2 separate regions of the Homo sapiens genome follow, and region 2 is linked to region 1. A link means that fine-mapping ties the variant in region 1 to the expression of a gene that starts in the linked region. Tissue or cell type: whole blood. Region 1 holds a variant in brackets; the other region holds the start of a gene. All regions are shown on one strand. Distances are from middle to middle.

What was found. PIP is the estimated chance that this variant, and not a neighbour inherited with it, causes the effect.
Region 2: BCAM starts here. The variant in region 1 is fine-mapped to the expression of BCAM in whole blood (INTERVAL, PIP 0.90).

The regions. Positions count from the first base shown.
Region 1 is chr19:44,557,749-44,560,431 of GRCh38, forward strand. No RefSeq gene overlaps it. Among named protein-coding and RNA genes, the nearest start is that of CEACAM20, 29 kb to the left of the region's middle. The variant TA/T (reference allele first, on the strand shown) is at 1,138.
Region 2 is chr19:44,807,620-44,810,302 of GRCh38, forward strand. It overlaps BCAM (basal cell adhesion molecule (Lutheran blood group)), which reads left to right and starts at 1,484. Exons shown (of 15, transcript NM_005581.5): 1 at 1,484-1,587. The coding sequence starts at 1,506.

The sequences.
Region 1 (2,683 bases):
GTTCGAGACCAGCCTGGCCAATATAGTGAAACCCGTCTCTACTAAAAATAAAAAAATCAGTCAGGCATGGTGGTGTGTGCCTGTAATCCCAGCTACTCAGTAGGCTGAGGCAAGAAAATTGCTTGAACCCGGGAGGCGGAGGTTGTAGTGAGCAGAGATCCTGCCACTGCACTCCAGCCTGAGCGACAGAGCAAGACTCTATCTCAAAAAAAAAAAAGGAAGTGAGACATAAGTATTGTATTGTATCATGATAAAGCAATTATTTGGCATTACACCTTAATGAATTTTATCCAGTCAATTTGCCTTTGTAGACACAGAGTGATTCATGTAATATGATATGTAGCATAATCAAGTTTAATCTCTGTAATAATGGTTGTTTATCTGTAGGCTATAGTTGTAAAAGAAGAATAAATAAATAAAGCAATCTATCAATCTTGATCAAACAATGTAGCCCACAGTTGATTCAGATGTTACAATAATGTAGTTGGTACAACTCACTGGGCAGCATATACCATGAGCACTAATGAAAAATAAAAATCATGGCAAGGCGCGATGGCTCATGCCTGTAATCCCAGCACATTGAGAGGCAGAGGTGGGCGGATCACCTGAGGTCAGGAGTTCGAGACCAAGCTGGCCAACATGGCGAAATCCCATCTCTACTAAAAAATACAAAAATTAGCCAGGCACAGTGGCTCATGCCTGTAATCCCAGCTACAGGGGAGGCTGAGGCAGAAGAGTCGCTTGAACCCAGGAGGCAAAGGCTGCAGTGAGCCGAGATCATGCCACTGCACTCCAGCCTGGGCAGTAGATTGAGACTCTGTCTCAAAAAAAAAAATGAAAAATGAAAAATGAAAAGCAACTGCATGAAAGTCAATTCAGTTTATGCCTAGCCTTCATTAAAGACCAACAAGAAAAAATAACAAAAAAAAACAAAAAATAAATGTTTCAGTGAAAATCTCATTTGGGCTCTCATCTACAGGACAGAGTGTAGATGGAAAATACATGTTTGATGTAATAACTGATCTTGTGATATACCTTTATGATTGTAAATAGTTGATATATTAAGAAATAATAGTAAAATAAATGTTATTTTAAGCCTCCAAATTTGTGATAATTTTGTTAGGCAGCAATAAATAA[TA/T]AAAAAAAAAACTAATACACCCAAACAGAATAAACCCAAATGAATCTATGCCAGGGCATATCATAATCAAACTGTTGAAAGCTAAAGATGAATTTAAAATCTTGAAAGCAGTGAAAGACAAATGATACCTTACCCATAGGAAGAAAACAATTTCAATGAAAGTAGATTTCTCATCAGAAACTATGAAAGCCAGAAGAAAGAAGCATAACATTTTATAAGTTCTAAAGAACTGTCAACCCAGGATTCTATAACCAGCGAATGAAAAAGATGTACATTTATATGTATACATATAAAATATGTATATATGTATATAAATGTATATACATTTATAGGTATACATATAAAATATGTATATATGTATATAAATGTATATACATTTATAGGTATACATATAAAATATGTATATATGTATATAAATGTATATACATTTATAGGTATACATATAAAATATGTATATATGTATATAAATGTATATACAATTATATGTATATATTATGTATATAACCATTCAAGAATGAGAGAGATGTACATTTTAAAATAATTAAAAGAGGCCGGGTGGGGTGACTCACTCCTATAATCCCAGCACTTTGAGAGGCTGAGGCGGACAGATCACTTGCGGTCAGGAGTTCGAGACCAGCCTGGCCAACATGGCAAAACCCCATCTCTACTAAAAACACAAAAATTAGGCAGGCTTGGAGGCTGAGGCAGGAGAATTGCCTGAACCCAGGAGGCGGAAGTGCAGTGAGCCAAGATTGCGCCACTGCACTCCAGCCTGGGTAACAGAGCAAGACTCCATCTCAAAAAATAAATAAAATAAAATAAAATAACTAAAAGAGTTATTGAATTGTAATTGCATTTGGATTGGAAATTGGATCTAATTGTAAATTGGATCCAAGAGTAACTGGATTGTTTGTAATACAAATGATAAATGCTTAAGGGAATGAGCACCCCGTTCTCTATGATGTGATTATTCCACATTGCATGCCTGTATCGAAACATCTCATGTACCCCATAAATATATACACCTACTATGTACCCATAAAAATTAAAATAAACAAATTTTTAAAAATAAAATAAAAAAGAATTCAGGAAAAACCAACACATTCTCAGATGAAGGAAAACTAAGAGAATTTGTTGCCAGCAGACCTACCCTAAAAGAATAGAGAAAGGGAGTTATTAAAACAGAAAAGAATGGTAAAAGAAGGGAATCTGGAACATCAGGAGAAAAGAAAGATAGAGAAGGAAGAAAAGAAAAGGAGAAAGAGGGAGGGAGGAGAGGACAGAAAAAGGGGAGAGGGGAGAGGAAGGGGTTTTCTTTTTCTTCTTGAGTTTTCTTTCCCTTTTTTTCCAGAGGATCTTCACACCTCTAACTGAATTTTCTAAATTACATTTAATAGTTAAAGTAAAAATTGTAACACTGTCTGATGTGATTCTCAATGTATGTAAAGAAAATATTAAGACAATAATATTATAAATGATTATAAATGGGAGAAGATAATGGTATTAAAGGGAGGTAAGGTTTTTTTTGTTTTTTTTTTTTTTTAA
Region 2 (2,683 bases), 250 kb after region 1:
CAGCACTTTGGAAGGCAGGAGGATCACTTGAGCCCAAGAGTTGGAGACCAGCCTGGGCAACATAGTAATACCCTGTTTCTATTACCAAAAAAATACAAAAATTAGCTGGACATGGTAACACAAGCCTATAGTCCCAGCTACTTGGGAGGCTGAAGTGGAAGGATTGCTTGAGCCCAGGCGGTTGAGGTTTGAATGAGCTATGATTGCGCCCACTGCATTCCCGGCTGGGCAACAGAGCGAGACCCTGTCAAAAACAAAACAAACAAACAAAAAAAACGTTGGTCTCCTGTATGACCAATGGATAAAGTAACCTTGACCAGTCTAATAACTCCCAGGCTGACCTGTAATCCAAGCCTTCTCTGTATGTCTGAGCAGGCAAAGCCCAGCTCCAGGGCTACCTCAACCCCCAGGCTGATCAGAAGCTTGGGTAACCTCTCCCAGTGTGGCCAGCGACCCCCCACCCTCCCACGTTCTGACCACTGTCCTGGGCAACTAGTGACATCTAGTGGGGGATTTTGTCCCAGTCTGACCTGGCCTGTAGGGGCCTTGGGCAGTCGGACCTGTGACCCACGCTTCCTAGCAGTGGCTGGACTCCTCCCCCTTCCCGCAGGTGCCCTGGCCTCTTCCCCTGCCCTCCTCACCTGCTCTGGCCAGTCTGACTCCTCCCTTCCCCACAAGGTTGGGAGGGAATGAAGGAGAGAGCGGGAAGGAGGAAGGGAGGGTGGCATTCCTGGGATTCCCTGGATAGGGGGAAGAGTGGGAGGGCCTTCCATGGGTGAGCAAGCAGAGAGGGCACCCCGTACCCCACCCCCAGCCCCATCATCGAAGCGGCCTAGGAGGACCTGGATTTGAAGACCATTGAAAATAAGAGATTAAACCGGTTGATTCCAGGCTACTGGTCAGACGAGGAAAGCAGCCCAGAGCACTGACCACAGGGGAAAACATCTCCGGGCATACTGGGAGCAGCTGCTGGGGGCCACTGGTCAGGCTGCGGGGGTCACTGGTTGGACTGGGAGAGGCCAGTGCAGGCCACTCGGACGGCACGCTTGGGGCCATTAGTTACACTGGGAGAGGCCATCGCAGGCCACAGGTTGCAGTGGGGTCCTCTGGTTAAAATCGACGATGCCAGCCCAGGCTGCTGGTCACAGTGGGGACGAGTCCCCAAGGCCCCTGGTCAGAATAACGAGGAGAAGGTCCGCGATTGCCTGGTGAGATCCCAGCTCGGGTCACTGGCTACGCTGGTCGATCAGGCCCCCCGCTGCAGGCGCTGGTCAGTAAGCCCGGACAGCTCTAGGCTTGGGGGCGGACGAGCCCCGAGCCTGGCCCCGTGCACTGGGAGGTCCGCTCCGGGCAGTGGGAGGTCCTGGCCCCGCGCCCGGGCATCGGGGGACGAGGGGGGCCTGGAGGGCGGGGCGGGGCGGGGCTGCCGGGGGCGGGGCCTCTGGCTCCCAGCCCCGCAGCGGCCGAGCTGCAGCCCGGGCTCAGTCTCCGCCGCCGCCGTGAACATGGAGCCCCCGGACGCACCGGCCCAGGCGCGCGGGGCCCCGCGGCTGCTGTTGCTCGCAGTCCTGCTGGCGGCGCACCCAGGTATGGCTCGGGCTGAGGGCAAGGTGGGACTGGGGAGAGGCCCCTGGGGACCCCGGGAAAGCGAGGAGAAAGGGCTTTACCCTGACCCCAGGAAGCAAAATGTGGGGACCCCAAGGAGGAGGGATATGGGAGTGTTGGAAGGTACGCCTTCCAGTGAGAGAGATCTGGGGACAGCCAGGCAGGAGAGCTGGGGATACCCAGGCGGTGGATCAGAGACAACCAGAGAAGTCAGCCCCCTTCCCACTCAGCACCCTGGAATCTGGGTCCCACCTGCCTCCTCCCTCAGACCCTGGAATCTGGGCCCCCAGCCCCTCTTTCCTCAGACCCAGGAGTCCAGGCCTCCAGTGGCTAGAATAGCTTCCCCCAGGGCACAGAGGATCAAAACCCCAGGGCTCTCTCCCTCAAAGGTCCTCAAGTTTTGAGAGGTCCAGGGACCCCTTAGAGAAGCGAGGACCATGTGTCCCCACACCAGCGATCCACATGTATTTAGGAGTTTCCAGAGTCCAGTATAAAGAACCCGCCTCCCTCAGGAAAGGGCTGGAGCACCAGCCCCGGGCAGTGACAGTGGAACAAAGTGTTTCCAAGTGACAGGCCCCCTTCCTGGGGCCTCAGCTACATTTACACACCTGCATGAGGATAGAAGGAGAGGAGGCCGGGGGCTGGGGGGTGGGGGTGGGGGTGCTGGGGACAGAGGGACAGAGAGATGAGAGAGATTGGGGAAGAGAGAGGAACTCTCTGCCTCCACTTGTCTGCAGATCAGACCCAGCCTTAGGCACCAGCCTGGACCCCGTCACCCCTCCCTGGGGACAGGCTGGGGCCAGAGGTGAGCGCTTGGGAATCCAGGCCCCTGGCACACTCATGGTCAACAGTGGGTCCCCAGGGGTAGGGCTGGGCCAGATTGAGCAGAGAAGGGAAGGGAGTTTCTAAGAAGCACTGAGAGCTGATGCCAGGATGCCAGCCCAGAGGGTGAGGGAGGGTGGTGGTTTTTCTACAATAACTACTCCACCAGGCCCCAGCCTCCTCTTCCCTCTGATCCCAGGAGTCCAGGTGCCCAGCTTCCCAAGATCCTGGGCCTCAACCTTATCCTTTTGCAAGA